Linked DNA regions of Homo sapiens. The protein of the gene in region 2 purifies or fractionates together with the protein of the main gene of each other region. This does not show direct contact. Each region holds a gene or a part of one and is shown on either strand. Other genes may lie near its edges. The genes, in order: ZZEF1 and WFDC10A.

Region 1 (3,916 bases), on a different chromosome or scaffold from region 2:
TCTACTATATAATATATTAATTATTTTCTTTGTTTCGGTAGATGTGGGCCAGTTTCTGGCAAGCATGAGAGCGATTTTGGAATCCCTTTTCTCACAGTACAGTGGAAAAACCATAGTAGAAAGATTATGTAACTCAGTGTTTTCAATGGCAGCTCGTCAACTGGTAAGAAAAACTAGCAGCTATTTGTAAAGAACCGGAAGGGGGTTGGGGGTCTGCATCCCCAGGCCCAGCCTAAGGTGGACGCTGAGTGCTTCATCCATCTTCCATTAGGTTATCTTCCTGCTGGACTTCTGCACTTTAGACATCCCACACTGCGTGCTCTTGAGAGAGTTCAGCGTCCTCACAGAACTCCTGAAGAAGCTCTGTAGTGGCCCCGAAGGAGGACTGAGGAAGGTAACTCGAGTCAGCACTTGAGCCGCCCCGTGTTCTCTCTCAGGAGTGATGGGACACACTTAGTGAAGTGGACCACGGACTGCAGATAGGCACAGCTGAGCAGCCTCTAGAAGGCTCCCTTGATTTTATCAGTGGGCTTGCCAACAAGGGTGAATGTCAGTCCAAGTCGATGTGGCCTGGTCAGCATTAGAAAGGAGACGCAGAGGCCGGGCGCAGTGGCTCACGCTTGTAATCCCAGCACTTTGGGAGGCCGAGGCGGGCGGATCACGAGGTCAGGAGATCGAGACCATCCTGGCTAACACGGTGAAACCCCGTCTCTACTAAAAATACAAAAAAAATTAGCCGGGCGTGATGGTGGGCGCCTGTAGTCCCAGCTACTCGGGAGGCTGAGGCAGGAGAATGGCGTGAACCCGGGAGGCGGAGCTTGCAGTGAGCCGAGATTGCGCCACTGCACTCCCGCCTGGGCCACAGAGCGAGACTCCGTCTCAAAAAAAAAAAAGAAAGGAGACGCAGAAAAAGCTGTAGAGATGAATCTCATCATTTTATAGTTGATGAAGTTATATAAAAACCATGTAAGTGAGTGACAAAATTGAAGTCTAGAAGAGAAAATGTATGTTGAAAGGCAAATTACATTTTGTCTTTAGAAGAAATTTCTCCCTTACTTAATTATACATACATAACGTTTAATCACTGTCTTGTGTGAGCTTCTTCTTGTGTGTCTTTTGTGTGCCACAGAGCACAACTCTGTGGCAGTAGAAAAGGCATTTATATTTAACAGGTAAAAAACCAAAGGCCCCCCCCCAACCCCCCGCTCAAAAGAAAAGGGTAGGAGAGGAAGGGAGAGTAGATCCAGATTTGCCAGTGTCCCAGGTAGGAATGTGAGGTCTTTAAACTCCTCATTCAGTACTTTTTCCACTGGGAATTCACACTGGTAATGATTTGTAAGTAGTTCTGTCATAGCGAAAAGGTACAAGCTGGTCATGGAGTTTTTGTGTGTAATAAAAGCACATCTCCTCGGCTGCGTGGTGGACGTGTGTTGATCTGTGTGAAGATGGGAATGTCAGGTTTGTCTTCGAGCCTGCCTGCTGGTTTGTGCAGGGCTGTCAAGGCCATCTGCCTGGAGCACTGATAGAGAAACAGTCTGCTGCATGTGGCTAGGTGTCTAGTGATAGAACCTTTCTTTCCCCTGGCTCATTTGTTATCATAGCTGGATGTTGAGACCTGGCAACAGGAACAGCCTGTGGTGTTACATACGTGGACGAAGGAATCTGCCCACAACTATGAAAATAATTGCCATGAGGTATCCGTCTTTGTTAGCCCAGGGGCAACCTATTTTGAAGTGGAATTCGATGACAGGTGTGAAACTGAAAAAAGGTAAGACTTCTATATTCTTTCACCCCCAAGCGCTAATAGGTCAGCAATGAGAGAAGGAAGCTAATAGAGGTTATGCCTTCACAGGTATGATTATCTGGAATTTACCGACGCTAGAGGTCGGAAAACACGCTATGACACAAAAGTTGGCACTGATAAATGGCCCAAGGTGAGTGATAGTCCCAGAAAGAGGTACCTACTTCTGCACCAATGCTTTTCCTTTTGTCAGCCTTCAGGGGGCAGTAGAGGTAAGGTCTTTGAAGGGAGGCATTTATGTTACACGTTTGTGAAAGGAAGGATTTATATCAGAGTTTGACCAGCTATAGTCTGTCACCTGTTTTGTAAACAAATTTTTTTGGAACACAGCCATGCCTGTTTATCATTTATAGCTGCTTTGGCACTGCAGTGGCAGAGTTGAGTAGTTGCAGCAGACAGCGTTGTCTAGAGTAAATGAAGAGCCTTCATCCTTAGCAAGAAGTGCTGGTGGGTCTAGGAGGATGGCCCAGACCATGTGATGGAAGCCAAGAGTCTGCCTCACAGTTAGAGCTGCTTGAGCTCTTGGGCTGGAGGTTTAGTACTGCCTCAGACTGTTGACCTTCTCTCCATGGTCAGTGGTCTTGGCAGGAGCAGAGGCATGGAAATGTGACCACTGGCTGAGTCGGTAGTGGACAGATGGTCACCCCAGGTGTAGAAAGCTGAGCAGCAGTATTCTGCCAACTCTCCTTCTTCATGGGGTGTGGCTGTGAATGGTCTGTTTCCGTCACCCCTTTGTACATTTCTCCGTTAGTCATTTTGGACATGTGGAAATAGAGATCAATTTTAAACTGAGATGTTTCTCGTCATGAAGAGCATGCTGATTTCTGAAGCACTCCTCCTCTAATCTGTCTGACCACATGATTTCTGTTTGTCTCTAGAAAGTGACCTTCAAGGCCGGTCCTCGGTTGCAGTTCCTCTTTCACTCTGACAGCAGTCACAACGAATGGGGCTACAAATTCACTGTCACTGCCTGTGGGCTGCCCGATGTTGCCGTGTCTTGGGGGCTGGATTTACAGCTCCTCGTCTCCCGGCTGATGGGACGCCTGGCTTCCCAGTGCATGGCGCTCAAGTCTGTGCGCCGTAAGTGCACATCCCTGTGCTTTCCCTTCTTACAACCACGGTGAAGTGCAAGATGCGCGCTTGCCCTCTTGTAGGTCGTTTCCACGTAATGGCAGGGGGTTAATAATACGCCTTTTCAGTTTCCTTTAAACCGAAAGAATAAAGTGTCCACTCAATACCATTGTCACGAAGCTTTTTGCCTTAGACTTTGGAACATAGCAGGAAGGCTGCCATGGGTTCTCTGTCTATGGAGGATAACAGCTTTTTTTTTTGGCAACATTGTCATTTTTTTGCAAGTAGGTGTAGGTATAGTCCAACCAAAAGGCAGGAGTATAGAATAAGTTGATTGCATATCCTTTAAATATGTGAATATTTATGTAAATATATGTAGATATGTGACTATGGATTTTGTTTTAAAGTGATTCATTCAGGGCTGAGCAAGGTGGCTCATGCTGGTAATCCCAGCACTTTAGGAGGCCAAGGTGGGAGGATTTCTTGATCCCAGGAGTTTGAAACCAGCCTGGGCAGCATAGTGAGATCCCTATCTTTACCAAAAAAAATGTAAAAATTAGCCAGGTGTGGTGGCATATGCCTTTTGTCTCAGCTACTTGGGAGGCTGAGGCAGGAGGATCACTTGAGCCCAGGAGTTAGAGGCTGCATGCAGTGAGCTGTGATCATACTGCTGCACTCCAGTCTGGGTAACAGAGAGAGACTCTTGTCTCTTAAAACAAAAGGAAAAAGATGTGTTCAGTATAATTGTTTATTTAATTCTTCCAGGGAACAAGAATTACAGAATAAAACTTTCTACTGTATTTTATTTCTTGATCATTTCTTGAGTTTTTCCAGTTTTAGAAGTAAAATATAGAAAAATTACATAGTGGAAAAAAACAAAGGAAAATAGAATCATCCTTAATCCTAACACTCAGAAGTAACTGATTTTTTTAATATTTCTCCAAGAAAGAAAGAAATAGCTATTAGCATTTTTATTTCCACCTATTCTTTTCTCTTTGCCTATTCTAAACACATCTATGCTGGATATTTATTATTTGCTACAGA
Region 2 (3,916 bases):
ATTATTTCCATTATAGTCTGAAACTATGTCCTTTGTGATGTAATTCTTTAAAATTTTGTTCAGACTTTTTTTATAGCCTAATGTATAGTCACTTTTTGTACATGTTTTATTTGTGCTTGAGAAAAATGTGTTCCTCTAGTTTTTCTATGCAGACTTCTGTATATTTTAATTAAGTCAAGCTTATTAATCATAATGTTCAAATTACCCATCTCTTTACTAAATTTACTACTCTATCAATAATTTGAATGTATAAAGTATAGACCTTCTATATACCCATAAATCTTTCCCCTTATAAATGTCAGTACTTGAGCCTGCCACAATGTTGACTAGACTGCTTTAACAGAAAGCCTCCATCACATAATAACTGAAATACAATATACTTTTTATTTCTTGCTCAAATAATAATTCAAAATGAGTATTCTAAAACAATGGGTATCCTTTTTTCATGTGATAAAAGAAGTCAAGGACCCAGGCTCCTTTCACCTTTTGGCTTCACTAGGCTCTAGAACCTTGTTGTCATCTATACTGAGCTGGTGGAAAAGAAAAAGAGTGTGAAAGAGACTTGCCATCTTCTTAGGGTCTTGACCTAGTAGTGACAAGTCTGTTAGCCAAAATATTTACATTGTGGCACTGGCTGCAAGATGCTTGGGTAAGGAAAATGCAGCTTCTATTTGAGATGATGATTCTCCTCTATATAACCCCTCTTTGCTAGGATAGTTATGACAGTGTCCAGTCTCTAAATTGTTCATTTATGAGTGGACAAAAAGAAAAACTAGGAAAGAGAGAGCCTTTGGGAAGGGTCAAATACCACTCTGTAAACTATAGGTACAAATATCAGAATTTTTGAATTATAAAGGATATCGCAAAGGATACAGAGGAAGGTGCATAAGGTGAGATATGGGGGAAAGGCTAGAGAGCTTCCTTTGAATGTAAATTACAACTGTGGACTGAAGGAGTCTGCATTAGGAGTTCAGAATGTCAGAAAGAGGTTCAAATCTTTAGAAGATTATCATCATCAGAGGAAGAGGGTGATCTTCTTCCCAGCTTGCATGCCTACTGGGAGTCCAGTGACCCTAGGTTGTCCCCTCTTTCTCCTGTTAGGGAAGAAGAAACATCTTCACTTCTGAGAGTTCATTTCCTTCATGATATTCAAGGTCAGTGACCACCTCCTCCTGGACAGCCTGCCAAGCCTTTGACTGATAGGTCTCTCCCCCTGTCTGAGCTCTAAGATATTTACTATGTTTCTCCACTAGCCCTTCTGTCCCATGCCCTACAATAGTCTCTCTTTCTGTGTGTTTATGTGTGTTTAAATTTGTATATGTATATCTGTGTATGTGTTTATATACATTTATATATGAAACAGCTACTTACTCTTTCACTCAGGAATTCTAGCTCTCTTAGTCTAAAGAAATCAAAGATTTATAAATAAAAATAATATGACATTCTCTAGATTATTAGTAATTAGTACAATACAAATACTTGATTATTAGCATTTGAGAGCTGTGCAATTATGAAAATCCACATTTTGAGAAATACTTACATGATTAAATAAGGGTGGCAAAAATAGATAACAAAAGTTGTTTATATTAAAAGGATTGTTTATATTAAATATGGAGAGAAACTAAAAGATAATGCAATGAAACATCAGTTAATTCTAAGCAACTCTTTTTAACAATATATTTTTTCTTTTCTTTTTTCCATAAAACATTTTGTAATTAGAAAGCAGAAATAAATGATATCTTTCATTCTATCGGCAAGAACACAAGACTGGTTATGTGAAAGGAGGAGGCGTCATTCCTGCGGAAGCCCTATCCCACATGACGAACGACAAGGCCAGGGGCAAGCAAAAAGAGGAAGGACTCTCTTGCTCTGCTCCGACTTGGCCAGTAGAGGCAGTGAGGAGCTAAAGATCATTCCTTCTTTCCTTCCTTCACTCTCCGTAGACAGCTCTGCAGGGAAGTCTGTGACAACCTGGCCAGACATAGGGCTCACGATCTGATCAGAGTCATGGCACCCCAGACTCTGCTGCCTGTCCTGGTTCTCTGTGTGCTGCTGCTGCAGGCCCAGGGAGGATACCGTGACAAGAAGAGGATGCAGAGTAGGTGATGGGCTGCTGGATGGGTGAGGGGGAATTGGGTAGGGGGAATGGAGGGCCTGTGTCCAGTCTGAGTAGGACCTAGGAGTTGGAAACTCTCTGCATATCCAGCTCTGACCACAATGTTGTGTAGACTCTGGACTGTCCCTAAACCATGGCCCTCCAGCCCCTTAGCTGGCCCTGGGAATAGTAATGGGAATGAAGAAGAAACCTGCATATTTTGCTGTTCCTTCTCAATACTTAGAGAGAAATGGCACATCCCATAGTGAAAGGCGCACCAGGGCTGAGAATCCAGTGGGGAAAGCAAGACAATTATTATTTGATTTATGCACATTTGTGAGGAGTAAAGATTCAGAAGTGGTTATGACGGTAGGTGTAGGTGTAGAATGGGTATAAGTGTAGGGAAATAGGACATAAGACAAGCAAAAGTTGGGGTACACAGAGCCAAGTTAAGGTTATCATCAAAGGGGCAAGGAGAGTGGTGGTGGAAAGGGAACTAAAGAAGGGGCAGGAAGACTAGAGACAGTGACAGTGAGCAGAAGAGAGGGAGAGACAAGAGGCATGTTGATCCTCATCTCTGAATTCTACTATTCAGAGACTAGGAGAGAGTTTGAAAGATGTCTCATGCTTCTTTGAGCTCTCAGGATCAGACTGTAGATTCTTTGGTGGTGACTTCACCAAGGCCATGACTAGTAAGGGAGATGGAGTTCTGATTGCTGGTGTGTGGAGAAGGTCCAGGAAGCCCAGGCATTGTGGTCTAATGGGGTAAGGTGTACAGTGGAGAGACAGGATTTAAAATATGACCAATCACTAGGATTTGGTGATGGGCAGGAAGGTAGTTCTATGAAGAAGGAATCCAGGAGTATCATGACTGAGACCTGGGTTCAAGGGTCTTGGAGGAGGCTTCAGCTTGAGAAAAATGTTCTCTAGGAAACTGCGTTTATTTACCGTTCTATTCTCCTTGTCAGAAACACAGCTATCCCCAGAAATCAAAGTCTGCCAGCAGCAGCCTAAACTATATCTATGCAAACACTTATGTGAATCTCACCGAGATTGTCAAGCAAATAACATATGCTGTTCTACCTACTGTGGGAATGTTTGCATGAGCATCCTGTGAGTGGGAGAGTGGGCTGGGATGTGCATCCTGCTTCCCAACTCCTCTATCCAAGACTGTGCCCACATCCGAAGCACAAGGACCTCAAGTCACCAGCATAAGAACATCAACAGGAATGCCGCCCTCTCTACTGTCTGAACCCCTTGTCCCTGTCAAATAAACCAGAACAAATGCCCAGGGATCCTACCTCTTTTGCTGCCACTACAGATGATCATTGAGAGCTCACTGTGGCCCCTACAGATGCCCCACTTGTCTTGCGTCCTGGTGTTCAATTTCTCTCCCTGGCTATGCTTCTCTACCCTCCCTCTCCCTCTTTGGCCCACGTATCCCTGCCAGCCCTCAGGATGCCCAGCCCCTTGCTGTTTTGCTCACTGAACCAGTACTCCCAGGGGGAGGAACTGCTCATGTGCAGCATCTCCTGATGCTAAGGAGAACATTTCTCACCCTGGAGTCAGAAGGACCCATTAAGCATGAGATGGGTGGCAGTTAGAACCCGAGATAAAGAGTGGGAGGCCCCCAAGCACTGCTTTGGTCTCCTTAGCCTTGGTGCACCGCCATCCTATGCTCCCCAATCTCTCTGTAAGGTTCAGATTACTGTCTATCATTAGGATAATGAGTCCCAGGAAGTCCAGCAAGCCCAAGGCCACAAGAGAGTGAGAGGATATGATGTGACTGGAAGAGGGTGTTTCCTCTAGGATCACTTTTTC

The links.
Region 1: the proteins of WFDC10A (region 2) and ZZEF1 purify together in Homo sapiens (affinity purification with mass spectrometry; 2 studies listed by BioGRID and IntAct, with this or other methods). This does not show direct contact.

What each region holds. Positions count from the first base shown.
Region 1 is NC_000017.11:4,073,115-4,077,030, reverse strand, and holds part of ZZEF1 (zinc finger ZZ-type and EF-hand domain-containing protein 1), read left to right. Parts: intron 1-41; coding exon 42-163; intron 164-271; coding exon 272-394; intron 395-1,601; coding exon 1,602-1,768; intron 1,769-1,852; coding exon 1,853-1,934; intron 1,935-2,679; coding exon 2,680-2,881; intron 2,882-3,916. UniProt on the Homo sapiens protein: Histone H3 reader which may act as a transcriptional coactivator for KLF6 and KLF9 transcription factors.
Region 2 is NC_000020.11:45,627,807-45,631,722, forward strand, and holds WFDC10A (WAP four-disulfide core domain protein 10A precursor), read left to right. Parts: upstream 1-1,932; 5' UTR 1,933-2,007; coding exon 2,008-2,098; intron 2,099-3,063; coding exon 3,064-3,212; 3' UTR 3,213-3,390; downstream 3,391-3,916.